Homo sapiens: one gene and its partners. The protein of the gene in region 2 purifies or fractionates together with the protein of the main gene of each other region. This does not show direct contact. Each region holds a gene or a part of one and is shown on either strand. Other genes may lie near its edges.

Region 1 (7,079 bases), on a different chromosome or scaffold from region 2:
TACAGGTGACATGGAGACACTGCCTGTATCCCAGCCCACAGCTGAACAGAAGACTAACTAAACTACCAGCAGGGTGTCTGCATGCGTTGGGTGGTAGGGCACTGGCGCTAGTGAACTCACCCACTGGTTCTCTACTGAACCATGCATGGAATTACCTGAGATAGCTCAAAGGCTGAGACCTGGGTCCCACTCCCTAAGCGAGTTTGGTTTCACTGATCTGGGGTTGTTGCCTGAAATCAGAATTTTTAAAAGCTTCCCCAGTGATTCCAACATGCACACGAGAGTTTGAGAACCACTGATTGCACAAATCTATTATGAGTTTCAGACATTATTTAAGGCAGTCAAGGCATTTAGGACACCTTATATCCTTTAGTTATCACACCTTCCCTTGTTTTATTGTTTCTGTTTTATTGACATTCAGATGTCAATCATGGTGAAGCTGGGATAGGAACTCAGGTCCTCTAATTCTAAAGTCCATTCTCTTCCCACACACCTGTTACCTACTGCAAGGGTGTAGACAATGCATGGAAGCAATCTCCACTGCCAACAGATCACCCTAAGTTCCCTACGTGCAAGACACCTAGATTTGGAGACGTGAACCCTGTAGGCAACAATCATAATCCCTTCTGAATGCAGAGGACCGAGCCTTACAGAGAGGGCAGGGGGTGTGCTCATGTATGAGGTCTGAGATGGGGAAAGAGAATGGCACCAAATCCTGGCAATGAAGTTTATCCTAGACCTGAGATGTGTTCTAAGACAGCACGCTGAAGACAGTGCTCAATGGCATAAAAAGAATAGGCAATTGTTGAGCAGAGGGGCCTCTTCACTGGGGTGAAGGTCCTGCATCTGCACCTTAAGAGGGGTGTCAAAGGTTCACCTCTCAGGGCCATAGTTTCTTCTTCCCACTCTAGGCATTCTGATTTGTGGGAGCACAAAAGCCAATCCTAAAATCTCCCCTACCAGGCAGCTTCCTTTTCTTCAGGCTCTCCTTCTCCCAGAACTACGATCTAAGCTTCCTTGGTGAGGAGACACAGGACTAGTGCCCTCACATTTTTAGCCTTCAGACCACTCAGGTAGGCAAAGCATCCCTTCAACCCCCATCCCACTTACTCCCATTTCCACCTCAAAAAAGGCACCATCATTATCACCCAAACCAACTTTCGAGACAGAGGGGAATGATGTTCCCACTCCCAATTAGGAATCAATGCAGCCCAACAAAGAAGTGAAAACACCAGAGCATCCATGTTTGACATGCTACAAGACAGCAGCCCACCAGCCATGTGAAGTCCCTAAACCACAGATGTGCAGATGCAGGACCTCACCCCAGGGGCCAAGACAGACACTTTAAGAACAGCAAATGTTCCTTCTTATAGATAACAAATGATATTCCACCGTTGCTCTTGGGTTAGAAACGGGCCTCTTCGTACTCTACTCCAACCTGTGACACACACCGACCGCCTCCTGGTGTCCCCCAAATCCTAGTGTTGATGAAAAAGAACCACGAGAAATTACAGGAACCAAGAGCAGGTTAAACTTTCACATCGATTGCACTGATAAGCAGAGCCACTTACCCAGCACAGCCAGACAGCTCAGCACCGGGAAAAAGCACTTCATGTCGGCAGCCTCCAGGAGACACAACACAAGGCGCTTCCTCTTCTCCCAGCTCCTAATCTCTCATTTCTGGCAATCCACTTATAGCTCCAGAGAACAGTTTTGGAAATAGAACTTAACTCGGAAAATGGGAACAGATTAAAAAGAAGAGATCAGAAGGAGGGAGTTGGGGGGAAGGGGAGGAGTGGAGGCAAGTGTGAAAACTCCCCTATGCTACAGGAAGGGTCCACAACAATTCGGAAGTCGCTCCCGGCTCCTGCCACATCGTGTGCCTTGCAGTTTCCACTGAAATTGCAGACTGTAGTGGATTAATCCTCCAGAAGCACGGAAAAAAGGGTCTGAGAAAATCCTTTCATCCACTGATTATACAGAAATGTCCTTGGCTTCTCAGTGAAGGTGTCTGTGATCTCCCTCATTCGGATTCCCCAGAGAGAACAGGGCAGGTTTCGTCAAAACCTTTGACGGCCAAATCACCCTGCCTGGCATCAACCGTTTGGGTTTCTTCACCAAAAAGTCCGTTTCCATCCATGGTGGTAGGTCACGGAGGCGCCACCTGCCCCACGCCTGCCTAGGGCACACGAAGCAAGTTGGCGTTCGGCAGCCCTGAAGCGGTACCCCAGCGCGAGCAGATTTCTAAAACAAACACAACAGAGATTTTTATCAAAGGCAAAGCTGCAAAACCCACTGGGGCTGAGCGCTGAGCTGGTCCGGACACCTGGGTCCGGTTCCTGGACCAGGACAGTCAACCTCTGCATTCTGACCTTGGGCAAGTCTCTGTCTTTCCCTCCGCCTCAGTTTCCCTGCCCAGAGCAGGGCAACAGTGGGAAGCCCGATTGTTCCTGAAATACTTCCACCAAATGCTTCACTCCTGGGAATTCCCGTCACCTCCTACCGAGCCCGGGCGCCGCAGGTAGCCCCACCCTCCGCCAGGGCAAATCGGGAAGGGGCTCCGCGGTGGGGCCGCGACTCCCGGCCCCCGCCCCAACCGTGGGAGCTCTGCGCGCGACGCGTCCCAGGTGGCCCCGCTATTGTTTTACCTTGCAGGGTGTTTATATCTCGCTGATTGGAAAGAAAAGAAACCGGGGAAGAAGGGAGTCCGGAGCTCCGCTTTCAGCTGCCGGAGCGCGCTCGCAGCGCGCCCGCCCAGCCAGGGGAGGGGTCTCGGGCCCGACCCGGAGCTCAGCCGGCGCGGGCCCGCTCCCCACTCCCCGCTCCCCGCTCCCCGCTCCACGCCTCCCCGCCTCCCTCCCCGGGGCCCCCTCCGGGCGCCGCCCGCGCCCCCGCCGAGCCTGACCTCGCCCCTGGCCCTCTCCCTCCGCGCGCGTCGGACCGTCCTTCAGTCCATCCAGGCGCACGCCTCAGGGGACGCGCCGCTTCCTCTTCTCCCGCAACGGCACCAGCAGCCGCGCTGCGGCCCCTCCCGAGTCCCCGCCCCTCCAGCTCCAGCCCGGCCCGCCGCACTCGGCGAGGCGAGCGCGGGGCCAGGGCGGCGGCCTCGAAGAGAGGCCCGGCCCCGCCCCCGGCCCCGCCCCTGGAGACGCGAGTCCCGGCCCCGGGCCTGGCGGGGGCATGAGGGTGGCCCGGGGCACCGGAGGACCTGGGCAGGGCTGGCGTGTGGGCCGAGCAGCCCGGCAAGTTAATCAGGGCTTCACACCCAGACTCCGGGGCCGCCGGCGAGATGTACAGGCCCTTCCCAAAGCCCAGCTGGCCACCCATAACCTGGGAAGCCGGCGGCACAGAAGCTCGTCCTTCCTCCTGGAAACAAAAACAAAGCCCTTTGGAGACTTGAATCTGTTCACGAAGTGGAACCCCATATTGCACTTCACTCTTGGATAGAATTTGGACTCTGGAAACAGCCTGGGTTCTAACGCCGGTTCCTCCACTTCCTCGCTGTGGCCCTTGGCAAGTTACTTAACCTCTCTGTGCCTCAATTTCCCCATCTGCTATGTGGAGGAAATAACCCTTACTTAAGAGGGTTATGGGAGAAATCTGTGACATACTTGTAAAGCATTTAGAATGGTGCCTGATACATCACAAGTGGTCAGTAAATATAAGCTATTATTATTTTATGACCAACCGCCCTGTAAAGCAAGTGCTTTTTCGTTTTCTCACTACTTACCCAACACACACAACTTGCTGGGTAGACACCGTCACGAGGCGACCAAAGCAGAATAGACCGCCCTGCCCTCATGCAACTTGCAGTCTAGTGGGGACACAGACCATAAAATAGACATGACAAGAAAAGTACAGTGTTGAGGAAGCAAATGCAGAGACCCCAACCCTGTGTTATTGGGGGAGGGGCAAGGAGGAGGGAGCTTTGGTCGGGGTAGGTCCCAGGCTTCTCAGAGGAAAGGAAAACTCGGTTGAATGCCAAAGAACAGAAGGCAGCAGCAGAGGAAGAGACAGAGGGGAGGTAAGGAATCGCAGACTGAAGAAACAGCACCTCTGCAGGCCCAGAAAGGAGCCCAGTTAGAGGACCAGGACAGTCTGCTGGGCCCAAACTTGACTGTAGGAGAGAAGTGACAAGAAATGAGCTGAGAAGAAATCGAGTGCCAGAACCTAGAGGGCATTGTATGGTGTGTTAAGGGGTTGGGACCATTGGGAAGCCACTGAAGGTGTTGAGTAAGGGACTATGGTTATCAGATATACGTTTTATTTTTCATTTTATTTTAAGAGACAGGTTCTCACTCTGTGACCCAGGCTGGAATGCAGTGGTGTAATCTTGTCTCACTGCAACCTCCACCTCCCGGGTTCAAGTGATTCTCCTGCCTCAGCCTCCTGAGTCACTGGGACTACAGGCGTGCACCACCACACCCGGATAATTTTTGTACTTTTAGTAGAGACAGTGTTTCACCATGTTGGGCAGCCTGGTGTTGAACTCCTGACCTGGTGATCTGCCCGCCTCAGCCTCCCAAAGTGCAGAGATTACAGGCATGAGCTACTGTGCCCAACCAGGAATCTTTCCTTGTGTGTTAATTATTACCTCTTTCCCAGAGACACCCGTGACTCTGGCAGCTCTCAGTTCCCATTTGCTAGACTCCTTCATTTATTTATTGAGCACCTACTACGTGTTAAGAAAAGTCTCTGCTCTCATGAAGCTTACATTCTGGTGGGAAACACAGACAATGAAACAAGTATATAATATAATGTAACGTGTTCTGAAGAAAAGTGGAGTATAGAAATGTGTGGGCGGGCACAGTGGCTCATGCCTATAATCCCAGCACCTTGGGAGGCCAAGGCAGGGGGATCACTTGATGTCAGGAGTTCGAGACCAGCCTGGCCAACATGGCGAAACCCTGTCTCTACAAAAAATACAAAAATTAGCCAGCCGTGGTGGTGCACACTTGTGGTCCCAGCTACTTGGGAGGCTGAGGCATGAGAATCGCTTGAACCTGGGAGGCAGAGGTTGCAACGAGCTGAGATCACACCACTGCAGTCCAGCCTGGGCAACAGAGCGAGAGTATCTCCAAAACAAACAAACAAACAAATAAAAAACAGAAAGGAAAAGAAATAGTGTGTATGTTTGGGGGTTCCAGTGGGAAGAAGGACTCTTTGCTAGGTGAGGTGGTCAGAAAAGACCCCTCAGAGGAAGTGACATTTGAGCGAGACCTGATTACAGGGAGTGTGTGAGCGCTGGAGATTTCTGGAGTAAGAAGATTCCAAGTGCAGGGAACAGCAAGTGCAAAGCCCCATAACATGTTCAGAAAATTAAAGGTGTGTTAGTGTGTCTGAAATGGCATAAAACAGAAGGAGAAGGAGGAATGTGATCAGAGAGGTCAAAGAGGCCAAATCTAGTAGGACCTTCTAACCTGAGGAGCTTGGCTCACTCTGGCTGCTGGGTAAGAATAGAGCATCAGATGGTAGGGGTGGACAAGGGACACTGGATGGGAGGTTCTTTCCATTGCGCAGGTGAGAGATGATCACAGCTTAAACTAGGGTGGTGCTGATGCAGGTTGTGGAAATGGGTGGAGTCTGAAAGCATTTAGAAAGCAGAGTCAATGAAATTCTCTGAAGAACTGAATATGGAGGGGGAGAGAAAGAGAAGAGTCAAGGAATCTTCCAGAAGGGGCATCTCAGCCTGCTTTGGAACTCTCTGACCCCCACCAAGGTGTACCCCCATCAAGGTGCAAGACTGTACTTTCTGAGGCCTCTGCCTAGGCCTTCATCCTTGAACCCCTATACTCAATTATCCCTTCTCTATTACTCGTTCTTTCAATCTCAACCTGCCCCTCTTCATACTACTTGGCCCCTTGCATCCTTCTGGATGATCTTTCAACCCTTGACTTCCATCACCACCCAGATGTGTTATGGCTGATTCCCAGCATGGCATTCTTTCTAATTTCCACATCTACGATATGCAAAGAACTGTGCAAAGTGTTGGATGGGGAGACAAAAGTATAATTTAAAAGAATGCCTCTGCCCTCCAGACATAGAAACGATTAAATGAGTCCTGAACAGTGATGTGATGGTGGCCCCTTCAGGAGTTCATCAGCAGGCAGAGAAGTGAATTGGAGGCTGGGTACAGTGGCTCACCCCTATAATCCCAGCACTTTGGGTAGCTGAGGTGGGCAGATCACCTGAGATTGGGAGTTCAAGACCAGCCTGACCAACATAGAGAAACCCTGTCTGTACTAAAAATACAAAAAATTAGCCGGCCATGGTGGTGCATGCCTGTAATCCCAGCTACTCAGGAGGCTGAGGCAGGAGAGTCTCTTGAACCCGGGAGGAAGAGGTTGCAGTGAGCCAAGATCGTGCCATTGCACTCCAGCCTGGGCAACAAGCTCCAGCCTGGGCAACAAGAGCGAAACTCTGTCAGAAAGAAAGACAGAGAGAAAGAAAGGAAGGAAGGAAGGGAGGGAGGGAGAGAAGGAAGGAAGGAAGGAAGGAAGGAAGGAAGGAAGGAAGGAAGGAAGGAAGGAAGGAGAAAGAAAGAAAAGAAAGAAAGAGAGAGAGAAAGAAAGAAAGAAAGAGAGAGAGAGAGAGAGAAAGAGAGAGTCCTAAGGGAAGGAGAGATGTCAAAGGAGAGGAGTGCACCGAAGTCCCCAGTCAGCAATGTCTGGTGCCCGGGCTGAACATTCCAGCTTGCTTCAAAACATTCTGCATTTGAATTTTGAAACCTCTACTGCACCGGCCTGGAATCAGTTGTTTATTTTGGACATTTTGGAAGACTCCTTGATCTTGTCCATCAGGGAGTTAAATGCAGAAGCCTGCAGAAGCCGAGCTGAAGCACAGTGCCAGGGAGTACTGGGGCCTGTGCACCCAGAGCACAGCCTGAAAGAGCACGCACAGCTTCAGCAAAGTGTTGCTGCTGGGAAGGAAGGTGTGGTGTTGCCTGATTTTCCTACTTTTTAAGAGAATCAGGAAATCCACATTAAAAAAAAATTATTCTTAATTTTGCTCATTGGAAACTAGTGTTTCAAAAATAAATTAATCCCTCTCTTTCTAGTTCTTCCTAGAGTGAGGAAAAG
Region 2 (6,915 bases):
GAGGACGTGCCAATGTGAGATGCTGTGCTTTCTGTTCCATGTATCCCGCCTTTGCTAACAACCCATTTCCCTCTGAATGAAAGTTTTTTCCGTGGATCTCATGTAACCCTATGTCTTAAAAGGAAAATGTACAATCTGACATTGTTCAATGAAACTCCAATTCTTTAGCACAGAGGATGGTTTTTTTTTCCCGGAGAAGTAATGATTTTGTGACTGCATGAAATGTAAGCTGACACCGATTGTTTGCCCAGCACACGCGAGCTCTTTGAGAGTGGATCCAGAGAAAATGAGGCAGGGTGAAAAGGCAGAGCAGTGGGTGGGGAAATCAGTGGTGTCATATGGGCCTTCTTTTCAATTTGGATCTGAAGCCCAAACTCCTGCTTGAAATTCCTAGAATTTGGAATTTTATATTGTTCAAAAATTTGATTTTGCGTTTTGGTACGTGTATCCCAAGTGTCTTGACACAGACACATATCACACATTAAAGAGGTGGAAACACAGAAATCTTGTAACAAGGCATTTATTTGGGATGAGGAAAGGAAATTGAGCAGAAGGTACAGGAGTAATAGCAATTCCCTGTAGCTCTCAAAGCAAATTTTGAGCTCATTTTTCTTTTTCTGCAAGCTCAGCAGCAGAATGCCCAGAGTCTTCCCTGGTAGATGCAGGTTCCATAGCGACGTTCTCCTGCAATGCACGCTGGTATTCTGCAATAGCAGGCCATGTTTTTCCTTGAGCCTGGGACAGGGAGAGCATGAGAAATTGAGTATGGAGTTAGCAGTGGGTAAGAAAAAGAATCTCGGGGAAGTCACATGCTAGCTGACAGGTGATGCTGGCTGCATTGCAGCCGTTAGCACGAACAACCTCAGTCGATAGGAATAAACACGCAGAGCAGTGCTTGTCACTCAGAATTTGAGACTCATTCTCCTTTGCTCTCATTTTTGCATTCCTGCCCCATCACACACACACCTGAACATATCCTCAGGCTTGGCTGCAGTTTTTAAAAGCTCTTCTGTAGATAGAGTAAAATGTTCTCTTTACAACTAAGTCTACTTGTTTAGATCCAGAAATAACTAGTCTGTCTCTTCATATCTGAAACTTAGTGAATTTCACAGACGTTTCTTGGAATCAAGTCTTTGGAGAAATAAAGTTTCTCATGTTTATTTGGCTCTCTGTTCAATTTCTAGATGAGAAAATCAATGCCCAGAGATTCTAAGTGAAGCCACCTCAGTGACATAGACTGCTGAGACCCAACTCTGGAACCTCTCTCCCGTCCTTCCCTCTAGACTTAGCAGCTCTGCATGCCTGCCTCTCTCACCTGGATGCTTTGGAGCCAAGCTTTCGTCCCATGCAAGGGAAACAACCACTTCTGGGATGTCCGCTGCAATCTGCTCCGGGGCTGCAGCAACCTCATCAGCTCTTGCCTGGAGTGGCTCAGCCTGGGCCTGCAGGGCCACCAGGAGAATGGCAGCAAGGATGGCGAGGGTCCTCATGGCTGGGGTCACCTGGAGGAGGGAGAGCAGGAGCAGCTGTGTGGGGAGGGAGGAGCCAGCCTGGATTTATAGCTCTACTGGGAGAAGGCTCGGAGACAAGAAACCTTCCTCAATCTCAGTGAGAGGAGGTGTGCATTTTATAAGAGAGGCCCATTGGTCTCAAGGTTGCTCGAATGCTCCTGTTCTCCCAGTTTCATGCTAGTATACATCTGTACCTTTAATGTCTGTGCTAGGTTGGAGCTAATAATGACAAGAAAGACCCTGCTATGTTACTCGTGGGTTCACCTGCTTAAATATTATGATTCACTTTTTAACATTCCAAAAAGAATAGAAATTGCACTTTGATTCAACAGGCTCAGGGAACAAATGCTTCTTATTTTCTGAAGATGGGTCCTGCTGTTCTCTGGAGGTCTAGATTCTGGTGTCCTATATGAGTTCCAATGGAATAGCGAGTAATTCACTTCAGGATTCAGGTGACTTACCATCCTCATGAAGAGGTTTTTGAGGTTATGGGGTGAGTAGTCTCCTGTAGGAATCAGGGTGGAGAGGACAATGATTTTATCAGGCTAAAGGTGAAATCAGCTCAGTGACACAGAGTGGTTTAAGTAAAAAAAAGAAAGTTTATTATTTCCACCTCTACTTAGACTTGAGTAACAATTAACAATTGTATATTTATAGTGTACACTACCTCATGATTTTATATATGTATGTATTTAAATCTTTATCTCACACCATGTAGAAACATCAACTCAGAATGAATTGAAAACCTAAATGTAACAACTGAAACCATAAACTACTAGAAGTGTATAGAAGGATAAAGCTTTTGACATTGATGTAGGTAATGATTTCTTGGCTATGACACCAAAGGCACAGGCAATAAAAGGGAAAATAGACAAGTGTGGCTTCATTTAACGCTAAAGCATCTGCACAGCAAAGGAAACAATCAACCGAGTGAAAAGATAACCCAGAAAATGAGAGAAAATATTTGCAAAACCTACATGGCCGAAGGGGCAAATATCTGAATACATAAGGAATTCCAACAACTCAATAGCAAAAATCAAACAACCTGATTGAAAAACAGACCAAGGACCTAAATAGGTTTCTCTCAAAAGAATGTTCCAAAGACCTGTGATAGTCTCTACTGGACATGTCAACCAGGACATGTGACATGTGTGTTTAGAAGGAAACTGCTTGAGTTTCTCTATTAAGTTAGCTGGAAGCCATCGTCCCCAGCAGTCACCAGAGGTCCGGACAGACGTTCCTAGCAGGGATTCGCCCGCTGGTTCCCTCTGGGGTGGCCCCACAGTCAGAGGTCAGATTGGAGGCATAGCTTCAATAATGAAAACTCAGTGTAAAGTTTAAGTTTTGTAGTACTTACAGATCCTCTAGCTAGGCAGGGTGACCAGAGAGGGCAGACAGCAGTCCTCTGTCCCAGGTCTTCTATAGCAAGGAGCAGCCGTGCACAAGTGGACTTCCCCTATTTAAAGGTCTTTTGGGATGAGGTGTCCTAATTTCCGGGGTTACTTTCTGTTGGGTCCATTAAATAATTGTGGTGGCAAGGACAGTTGAGAAATTTGGTGGGAAGGTGAGGTTAAAGTAGAACTCCACAGAGGAACCTCTCATCTACCTTGGTCAGCCCTGGCCAGGCCCAGGCAGCAACCAACTATGGATTCTCAATGGCTCCTAACACAGTTGACCCTGTGATGCATTGGCTGTGGCTAAGCTGAACTACCTGCACCAAGGGAATATTTAAGGCCTCTGGGACAGCCTGGCTGCGTATCACAGTATACGCCCTGCAAAGAGATTGGGATAGGAATGCCACCTGCACACAGAGGAGGATTTGGAATGTGTTTCTAAAGCAGTGTCCCGAGGACCTGGGGTCTAACCATAAAAACTAATGAAAGCCATTTGGCTGAGCTGGGATGTTGGAGAACACCCAGGTGAGACTGAGTGCTACCTGGGCTTCTGTTGCTATGTGGAACAGACATTTTTGGGTTCTCCTGAGTACTGGATGTACACGCGGCATGTGGTTCCCCAGAGGTGACTATCACCTGTTTGCTTGGCCAATGAACAGTTTAAGCTTAAACAATTGTCTAGGATCATCTGGGCCAAGAACTGGTCTGAGGCATTAGCCATCAGGGTGGGAGTGGCCTTTCCAGATGGCCACCCAAGAAAGGAGGTGGGAGTCTGGGCATTCACTTTACTGCTGGTGTTGCACAGCCTCTCAGGCCTTGTGGGCCTTCAGAGAAGCATTCAGCAAAAGCTTGAGTGGTGCTTTCTGGGAGGCATAGGAGTTTCCATCCTTCACTGGTACACATCGGAGAACAGGTGTATCCCTGAGCCCATGATCATGTCTGGATGCTTTCTGTGAATGCAATGCTCCAACTCTTCAGGCTGCAGTCTGGGTGTGTGCTGCGGCGTCATGAGCCCATTTGGATTGAAGCCTGTGCATCCAGAGAACTACCTCCTCATCCTTAAAACACGATCTGTGGTTGTGAGGGCTGCTGGTGTTTAAGCATTGGTGCCATGGGACCCATTCAATATCTAAGGGTTGAGTTGCCCGCCTTGGACACAGGTCAGGTTGTATCTGGGGTGCAGCCCCTGTAACAGGGCTTACAGGGAATTCCCCAGTTTTCCAGTCTGGGGTACAAATTCTGACTAGGGCTGTCCTGTTCCAGCAGCCCTCTAGGCTGCCAGGCCTGGGTTAAACAGCTACCCCACAAGCCATTTGTACATAAGATACCAAGCAAGGCCAATCATAGAGAACACTGACATCTTGTCACTCAGGGCTTTCTTCCCAGTGCTTCTATATTGACACTGATGATGGGGTTGGCTGGCACCCACTTTTCCTTGGAGCCTTTCTCCCCCATGGCCACGTTTGGTGATGGCACTTCCATATGGTCTTTGCCTGACGTAGTTGGTGTCTCTAGTTTGAAGGCTTCTTCTCCTCGTTACTGCCTCTGACTGCACCCTCGGTGGGTTCTGGAGCAATAATCCCTACTTCCTGCCAGGAGAAGTAAGTGGGAAATATTAGCTAACCTTTAAAACCGGTAAAAAAGGGAGCTTTTGCCAGAAGCTGCATGTGAAATGGAGAGGTGTGGTCTAACAAAAGCCTCGTGGTCCTGCTGGGTGCCAGTGGGCCTGGGGGGTTATCCTCAGAAGATCGTAGTTTACTATCCATCCACAGTCCATTGTTCAGTATATGTTTGATGTTGAGATGGTGGATGTCCTGTGATGATATGGGGAGGTCTCATTATTGGAGAACATGTAAATGATGTTATCTGTAAGGGAAAAAAGAAGCTAACTCTTCTGTGATCACCAAGATAGGCACCAAAGTGCGTCTAGCCCAATTGTGATGAGGCAGTGGTGGCCATGGGATTGAGAGTTAAAAAAGTGACGGCCCTTGGAAGGACCTTGGTGCCTTGGGTGTCCATAGCACATCCAGAGACATTAATAACCATGACTTTAGGAGGCCACCGTGCTGCTTGAGGAGGCTGGTGGCTTGGGGACGATGGACTAAATGAGACTCCCTTAACCCACCCTCATGTTGTGATGTCCTGAGGTGGGAGCCTCCATCTGAATCAATGATAGGTGTGGTTCTAAAGGAGATAGTGAAGAAATGCCACGTAAAGAGAACACCTGCTCCACGCAGGGCATAAGGAGCTACGGTCCCTGGAAGACTACATGTGCAGAAGCTCATAGTTAGGACAGGTGTGCTTTGTCCAGAGGCTCTGAGACTTATGATGGGTGGTAGTGAGGGCCTCCCCATGAAACTCAGAACCCGGGACCCGGGCATGGACTAGAGAGATCACCTGCTGGACCAGCAACAGACTGTATCCTGCTGTGGCCCCAGTGGATGTGAAGGGCTTCTGGGTGATGGCATTTGTGGGCCTCAGCAGAATGGACAAGTGGGGTATAGCTGTCTCCAAAGACACGATGTCCCAGTACATGGAGGGCCAGCTGCAAAGTGGCTAGGACACTAGTGGTGAGGATTTGGTTTTTAACTGCAAGGGGACTTTGTCAGCCCACTGATGACAAATTGATGCCCAGAATCTTTACAACAGTGCTGGAGGGGCCATGAGTGTGTCCTCCAGAAACGTGGCCACTGTCCAGGAAGAGGGAGAGCGGGTGCAGCAGCTCTGCCACAGACATATGTCCTGGCCCAGGCGGTGGCTTTACATGCAGCACCCAGAGCGATTTGGGGAGCTGAGGGAGAACAGAGACCCTCCAGCTGGCTCAGAGTCACTGGTGGCTCCTGTCCCTGGAGGGGTGGCCTTCTCTGCCCCAACCCAGTCTTGTGCTCTCCTTCCCTGCCATTCTTGGCTGCAGGACTGGGAACCATCTGCTGGGACGTTGCTCTGTGTCTCCCTCATGGCCATGCTCCCATCCTTGCCTCCTCCATAGACTGCGGTCAGGACTCAGCAGCCCAGAGCCCCAGCAGGGTCTCAGTCTGTACTGAGGTCACACCTAGGCATTGTCGCCATCCTTCGGCAGGTGATTCTCAAACTCCAAACTCAAATTAGAACAGAGAGATTCTTCCCTGTGGTCCTTTTCACTTTTCTCTTTTGGCTGCACCAGAACCTTGGCAGAATTTTGTGGTTTAAACAAAAAAGGTGTTATGCCTACAGATTTTTTACAGTACTTTCACTTCCATGTTGATCCATAGTCCCCAACCCCAGCCTGATGTTTTCCACTGATTGCAGCCAGTGTAGACAATCAGTGTCCACACTGTGGACACTATATGTAGATGCAGCTGAAGCTGTTTTTTTCAGACACACGCATTTGAATTTTAGGGAATATTGAAGCGAGTCTAGACTCAATAAAAACCTTGACATCATTAGGCTGGGGTAAACATTCTGGAGAAGCTGTGGGTGGGGTTGTAGGTGTGAGAGGAGAGAAGCTTCCAGGAGCAGCACACATATTCTCACACATGTTTATGGTGTCTGGTGGCCTCAGCAGACACAGTGTGTGTGGACCTTGGGCGGGGCCCTGGGGTTATGGTTTTGACCCGGTAGGAAAGGGTAGTCATGGAACACAGCATGCGTGTTACCATGGGGCGCAGCGGGGGCTACGCAGAGGTGAGCTCTGAGGAGGACCCTCCACCTCCCAGCTCCTCAGAGTGCATCGCGCTGTCCCTCCCCTCAGCCCTTTGTCCACTGTCCTGCAGGGAGGGTCCTGGTGCTGCCTGTGCCACACAGTCACTCCCGGGCCTGCAGATCCAGCTGGGACAGGTAGGAGCTCCAAGTCCCTGCCCTTTGTCTGCCTTTCCCAGCCGCCTCTCACAAGCTGTCTGTGTGTCTGGTGTTGAGGATTGCAGCAGGTTTATTTTACAATAAACCATAAGGAAATAGCTTCCTTGAGCTGTTTTAAAATATGGCCCTAAATCCCTGACTCTTTTCACATAAAAATGGAGGTGAAAATGGCT
Region 3 (7,173 bases), on a different chromosome or scaffold from region 2:
TAAACTGGGTCATCCTATGAAATCTCCCAAGGCCCACAACCAGAGTGTAATCTCAGGATTAAAACCTGCTACAAGCCCCAGAGAGCTTGCTGCCTCCACAATAAGTACTACTGCACTCAAGAAGCAACGAAAGTCTGACCCATATTAATTGTGTTGTTCAAAACATTTCAGGACAAACACATTAAACACTTCTCTCTATCCTACCAAACCCAGACATGCCAGTTAGCAAAAACAACTCCTATCACATCAACCTCACAGTTTCTCGCTCTCTCTTCCTGATCCAGTACCTGGTAGACAAAGCAAATAGTAGGTGCTTGGCAACCATATAGGAACTTGACATCAATGACATGCAGCTCCTCCAGGCGGATGTTGAAGGCCTTGAGTTCTTTATTATCGCGATCTAGTGGAATAACCTTGAAAAGGCCATCATAGAGACGCAGGCCAATCATCCGGCACTCAGGGTCAATGATGCCAATAATGCCGGTCTCTGAGGGGCGGCCAATGCGGTCCTGAGAAACAAAATCGGGATTAGGGAAGAACCTCAACATCCACAGAGCAACAGAGGACGCTGGGCACCACTTGTGCAGAAAAATTTTAGGAGAGGTATTAAAACTAATGGATCTATTTGATAGGCCAAATAGTTGGAGCCCCAATGTCAGTGCATGCCTTTTTCATGAAACACTGAATCTCAATGAATTATTACCCTGTCCCTTGGGTCTTGAGTGAACTACAGGAGTCCTTTCTCCAAAAAGCTCAAACCCATAGTGTCTTCTCCTTATTTCTCTGATCGAATAGAGAGCTGCCCCCAGCACTTTAATTTTTTCCATGAATCATGACAGCCCTACTTAGAAAACTTTCATTGGCCTAAAGCAGCCACCTCACCTGGACATTGCCATGGGCTCGCGTAATGATGTCAATGCTCTCGCCACTCTGTTTATACTCCAGGATGCAGGCATTGTACTTCGCTGTCAAGATAAACAGCAGGTCCTTGCTCTCCCCCTGGAAACCAATATTATGCTATCAAAAGAGGTTCTTTTTAAAACAGGAACAACCTGTCCAGTCTTTAAGCACACCAAATTCTTTAAGAATTTTCCAAATTCTTCTCTCCCTAAAGAGAAAATACATGGTGAGCTTGTAACCCACACTAGGTACACATACACCCTAAGGGCATGTACAAAAAGCCAGAACTGAAGCTGGTAAACATCTAGTTCTCACTTTCATGATTCTCCATCTCTCTGTTCTACAAACAAAGTCTTCATCTATTTCAATCTCAAGCTAATCTCAATCATCCCATTCAAATTCTGAAAGATGAATGTAATGCCTCCTCCACTCCTCCCCAAGTATTTGAAGAAAGAGGAAAAAAAATGTGGGAATAACAACGGAAGCTAAAATGGATCAACAAAGTCCTACTTATTTAACACAGACTCCAAAAAATTGCTGTTTTGTTCAAAGGGTTATAATTAAAATTTTGAACCCACTGCTTTCTTGCCAGATTCAGTTAAGACAACATAAAGCAATGTGGTGGTGATTTGGATGAAAACATTTGCGCTAAAATAATGAAAATACTGATGGTAATTGTTTTTTTTGTTTGGTGTTTTTTTTTTTGGAGATGGAGTCTCGCTCTGTCACCGGGCAATGGGCGCCATCTCCACTCACTGCAACCTCCGCCTCCTGAGTTCAAGCAATTCTTGTGCCTCAGCCTGCCAAGTAGCTGGGATTACAGGCACGTGCCACCACACCCGGCTAACTTTTGTATTTTTAGTAGAGATGGGGTTTCACCATGTTGGCCAGGCTGGTCTCGAACTCCTGACCTCACGTGATCCACCCACCTCGGCCTCCCAAAGTGCTGGGGTTACAGGCGTGAGCCACCATGCCCGGCCTGGTAATTGTTAACATAACTGTAAATGCTTGCTATATGATAGGCCCTATGTTACTGAATCATTTCATCGTCACAACAACCCAGGGGATTTGATCTGAAAGGTGCCTTAAGTGGCACCTAAAGTCAGAATTAACAAGAAATGAAGCCAGGACTGCCCCACTCTGTAGCCTATCCTCTGAAACAAACTGCTTTAATTTCTCCCTTCTAAAGAAGTCAACTTCATAAATGTTTCCCTAATGAATCTCTCCTTTTACTTCTAGAAAGCTTGGTCAAGAGTACATACTGAAATTTGCTATCCAAAGAGAGAAAAAAGAGAAGAGTTTTTCTCCTAAAGCATATTCCACCCATCCCAAGAATTCGCAAAACAACCTAACACAGCCCAAGCACGGTGGCATGCCTACAATACCCCAGCTACTCTACTCCAGAGGCTAAAGTGGAGGGATTGCTTGAGCTCAGGAGTTCAAGACATCCTGGGCAACACTGTGAGACCCCCGTCTCAAAGAAAATAAATAAACAAACAAAAATAACATAAAACAACCTACGACCAACAGTTCCCCCTCCACTGCTTGTCCCAACTGCAACACTTACCTTGGGCCTGAAAAGCTCCATGACCGCAATCTTCCCATACATGCCCACCTCTTTGACGGGCCGAAGCCCCTCGGCGGTGACCACATAGATCTCTAATCTCGTGTTTTTGGCAATCAACAGGTTTAAGTCTTCGGCCGAAGTAAAGTGTCCTGAAAGAACAGACCCTCTAACTTTTGAACTCAGGGGAAGGGCCTCCCATCCCTTCAAAATAATCCTATCACTTATGTCTAAATACCTCCAGAATTCTCATTTACTTCACATACTTCTCCAACTCCCTCCAGCTACTCCCCTTCTTGCCAAATCCGGCACCTCAAAGAGTCTCAGTTCATGCATTCAACAAAGCTACTTCCCTAATCAGACTAAGAAAACTGGACTGGACCTAAGAGCCGTGTGTCCTCCAAATGACAATGACTGCGTAATCCCTTCTCATGCCTCTTGCCCCTCCAATTTTACTCTATTACAGTTACAGTGGCAGGCTCTAATTGAGAATGCCGGAGAAAGTGTTCACTTCTTCCAGTCTTCATCTAAAGTCTCACAAAACTTTTATCTGACAGACCAAGTCAAATGAAGAAGTCCCAGAGCTTTATATGAAAACACTGTTTTGTCCACACCCCCTGCCCTCCTGGCAGTCTACCAATACCTCCATCCACACTCAGCTACCTCCAACTCTGAACAACAGTTTTGTTTTGGAATCATGATTAGGGTGTATATAAACATGCAAGCTTGGGGTCTGCATATTCAGCTGAGAATGTGGGTTAAGATGACTCTTCCCGGGTTCTGAACATCGGTGTCCTTAACAATCCAAGCGCATCGTCAACAAGGCAAACCCAGCACTGGGCCAGGCAAACCAAACCCTCTTCTCCAGCAGGGCCCTCATGTAAACAACAGCCCCAGGCAAAGGGGTTAGCCTGAAGAGGGCTCCTCTCCCTCTGTGGGATAATGCGGGCATTCCTCACATCCCTCCACCTCCTGGGCCCCCCAGACTTCCCCACAGGAAAATCTTGACCCCAAAGTCGTCATTACCACCTCCCCTTTTCCTGGCCACAGAAAGCCAATCTCCGGGCCCAAACGACACCGCACAACCAACTCACACTCCTCTGTCTCACTGGGCCCGCCCTGTTCTCGAGGCCGAATGACCTCCCCAGGACGAAAGGGGACCCTCGAGAGCGGCTTCCAACCCCCAAAAAGCGCGTACAGGGACGACTCTTTCGAGGTCGCGGTGCTGGGGGAGGTTCCTCGGCCGCCAGCGCCTTCCATTCGCCGGGCCCACTCCTGCCCGGCCGCCCCCGGGGCGGCGGGCCTCCCTAGGCCGCGGCTCCCCCCAACTCCCTCACTCGCCGGGGTCTCCGGCCCCGGCAGCCTCACCGGTCACGCAGCCGTTCACGGCGGTGGGCTTCTGGGCCGTTACCACGTAGTTGTACGACATGTCGAGGCTTGGAGCGGCCCGTCGGGACTCGAGCGCGACACTAGAAAGAGGGACACAAGCGAAAAGACAGGTGGCCCCCAACAGCGCGCAGCGAACTCCACTGCCGCTGCCTCCGCCCCAGAGACACGTTGCAGGCCAGAGCGGCCGGGGCGCGGGGCATCACGGGACGGCCTCACCTGGCCTCTTGGAGGACTCCCGAAGCCCGAGGCCGCCAACCGAAGGAGGCCCCGCCCCCGGAGGCACCGCCTCGCCTCTTTCCGCCAGCGCCCGCAGGACCCGGATGAGAGCGCACGCTTCGGGGTCTCCGGGAAGTCGCGGCGCCTTCGGATGTGGCGGATGCGGCCGTGAGCCGGCGGGGGAGGTGCGCCAGTGTCCTCCGAGCTCGCCCGCAGACTCCCCACCCCGTTCCGCGCCCTTTGCCCTTCCCCGCATCCAGTCCTCCTTCCGTTGCTCCAGGAGCCCTCGGGCTGTTCCTCCTTTGGGAACGGGAAGGACTGCGGAGGCATAGAGAGGGAAGGGAGACCGCGATTCGTGCATATCCCAGACTAGAACCTTGCCTGCTTTCCTTTCACTGTCTCAGTTCCTCCAGATCCAGCTGGTGCCCTCGCCTGACGTTTGAACGACCACCTGCTCACCTCCTCCCTTTTGCGCGTTGATTCTTCAGACTTCAAAGGGCCCACCGGTCTGCTTGCCCAACGTTATTAGTGCCCCTATTGCTCTACAAATTCGAACCTCAAACACAAAACCAGTATTTCTCCGTAGGGAACCTTAATGAGCCAGGAGAGCCGTCAGCCCTGCAGCCTCCAGGGTACCCCACATCAAACAGGCTCCCCGGGAACAAGAGGAATACCACGTGGCTTGGCACACTCGCAGAATGCCAGAGAGGAGCCAACCCCCATTTTACAGATGAGGAAGCTGAGGCTTAGGGAGGAATTGGTTTACCTAAGACCCTCCCCACAACCCCAAGTAGGCTGAGGCAGAGCTATGTTGATTCTTCCTATTGTGCACCCACACAGAGGCCAACACGCTGCTGAACCAGGCTGAACTGAGGAAAAGCTAGAAAGTCATCGTGGTTTACATCTTGCCTTTCCCATAGCAGAGACTCTGCCTGACTTTGGAGGCACTGAATTATCAGTAGTAAAAACACACTCTGTAGAAAAACTAGACATTGGTTTAGATTCTGGCTGTTACCTGTATTACCTTGGACAAGTCCCTAGAGCTCTCTGAGTCTGTTTCCCAGAAGTAAAATGGGTCACAAACCTGGCTAGCTCCCCCCATTCCCTTCCCTTTTGGTGCCAAGGCCAGTGAGGGCAAGCGTGTGACGAGCTTTGTTAACTTTTTCGCTGCATGTGATGCCCGTGTAAAAGATAGTTATTCTGAGGATCACTGTCCTTTAGTGATGAAGTGGGTGCTGTTCCTGGACATAAAGGCAGACCTGTGCTTGACATGGATTGATCTGTCTTCTGGCAGTGAAGTGCAGGCATGAACCTTGGTCAGCCCCACACTCTTCTCCATCCGTAGCCCATGTACTAGAGTTTGGACTTGGACCGAAGTCTGGGGCAGCTCCCTAATTACTAGGGTGCTGAAGGCGTGATTGTGCCAGTCGACTGCGAGTTCCTTCCGCAGCTTGTATCGTTACCCACTCCTGCAGGTGCTGCTGCTGCCTCCACTGTACTCAGACCCAGGTAGCACAGGATTGTCCATCCTCCAGCAGCTCAGTGCAACGGTGTGAACTCAGCCTGTTTCAGAGCCTCCACACCATGGTGAGTCATACAGGGCCGGGACGGGAATGGCAGCATGGTCTCAAAGCAGGATCCCAGCCTTGGGCAAGCTAAAGCTCCTTACACTTTGACTGAGAGATGCTATTGCCTCCTGAGGCTCACGGGTGAAGAGAGAGGGTCATCCTCTCTCCCAGGGTCTGATCCCTGCTTTTCTTTGTTTCCTGGAGGCTGCTGGTCCCAGCCAGGCCTGGGGCTGCAGCCTCTTGAGTCCCTTCAGAGCCACTCTGCCCCTTATCTGGGTCTTGCATTCAGAGTAAAACAGTAACAGTTACCTGCTCTGTAATAGACATTGTACCGGTCACAGAAGGAATCGTGAAGAATGACCATGTGACCGTTCCTAACCTTGGGGCTTATGTGGGCCGGTCTGGAGCTGGGATCTACAGTGTGGGAGGCTGGCCATGTCCCTGGGCTTTGCTCCAGGCCCACTGATTTGAACCAAAACAAGCCTTGAACATATCTGGATTCAAATTTCAGCCTGCCACTGACCAGCTGCATGACCTTTTACAGACCTCTCTGCGCCTCTTTTTCTTCATCTGCATTATAAGGCAAATTAAGGCCTACCTCCAGTGGTTGTGTGGTGTTGATCAAGCAGAGTCCTGGAGGCCTCACTTGACTTCCTTTCCTTTTCCATCCTTTCAGGCCACTGAAACCAGGGATAGCACTGGTCCCTAAACCCTCTTCTGGCTCTGTAAAAGACAGATTATCATGATGGGGAGCAGGCCACTTTCTTGGAGGGTAGTGCTGCTGGAGGCTGGGCTTGGAGTGAGGCCAACTCACAACTTCATTGTGTGTTCCAGTCCCTGGTAGGCTCTGAGAGCCACAAACCCATGTCCTTTCTAGGGCAACCTCTGTCACCCTCCACTTCCCTCCAGCCCCTCGAGAAAGCAGCATGATATGGCCAAAAGGGAACCAGCTTTGGAGCCAGGCAGACCTGGACACCTGCTGGCTGTGTGACCTTGGGCAAAATAGTTTAACTGTGCCTCAGTTTCCTCACTGGGCTCATCTTTCCTCCATAGGGCTGTTGGGAAGTTTTGTTTTGTTTTAGTTTGGGTTTTTTTTTTTGAGACGGAGTTTTGCTCTTTTTGCCCAGGCTGGAGTGCAATGGCGCAATCTCGGCTCACCACAACCTCCGCCTCCCAGGTTCAAGCAATTCTCCTGCCTCAGCCTCCCGAGTAGCTGGAATTACAGGCATGTGCCACCACGCCCAGCTAATTTTGTATTTTTAGTAGAAATGGGGTTTCTCCATGTTGATCAGGCTAGTCTCGAACTCCCAACCTCAGGTGATCCACCCGCCTTGGCCTCCCAAAGTTCTGGGATTATAGGCATGAGCTACCACACCCGGCCTGTTGGGAAGATTAAATGAGACATGCTCAAAAACACTTAGAACTGGGCCTGGCTCTTAGTCACTGCTCAGCAAATGGAACCAATCTTATTGTTCTTCTTGCTCCCTACAGACCTAGGCTACTCTGAAGCAGGTGGCTTAGCCCTGGCCCTGGCTG

What was found. Proteins that work in one complex are often made in the same cells at the same time.
Region 1: the proteins of DEFA1 (region 2) and IGSF3 purify together in Homo sapiens (affinity purification with mass spectrometry, with the first as the bait; 2 studies listed by BioGRID). This does not show direct contact.
Region 3: the proteins of DEFA1 (region 2) and TKFC purify together in Homo sapiens (affinity purification with mass spectrometry, with the first as the bait; 2 studies listed by BioGRID). This does not show direct contact.

Annotation. Positions count from the first base shown.
Region 1 is NC_000001.11:116,664,713-116,671,791, forward strand, and holds the start of IGSF3 (immunoglobulin superfamily member 3 isoform 2 precursor), read right to left. Parts: upstream 3,022-7,079; 5' UTR 2,906-3,021; intron 2,757-2,905; exon of another isoform or gene 2,649-2,756; intron 2,245-2,648; 5' UTR 1,615-2,244; coding exon 1,572-1,614; intron 1-1,571.
Region 2 is NC_000008.11:6,977,145-6,984,059, forward strand, and holds DEFA1 (neutrophil defensin 1 preproprotein), read right to left. Parts: upstream 2,949-6,915; 5' UTR 2,869-2,948; intron 2,017-2,868; exon of another isoform or gene 1,982-2,016; coding exon of another isoform or gene 1,973-1,981; intron 1,503-1,972; coding exon of another isoform or gene 1,491-1,502; coding exon 1,316-1,490; exon of another isoform or gene 1,185-1,315; intron 736-1,184; coding exon 626-735; 3' UTR 505-625; downstream 1-504.
Region 3 is NC_000011.10:61,329,076-61,336,248, forward strand, and holds the start of TKFC (triokinase/FMN cyclase), read left to right. Parts: upstream 1-4,152; 5' UTR 4,153-4,254; exon of another isoform or gene 4,255-5,544; 5' UTR 5,545-5,653; coding exon 5,654-5,656; intron 5,657-6,764; exon of another isoform or gene 6,765-6,862; intron 6,863-7,128; exon of another isoform or gene 7,129-7,173. Other genes in the region: DDB1 (DNA damage-binding protein 1), read right to left, coding at 288-509, 883-999, 2,468-2,616, 3,833-3,893.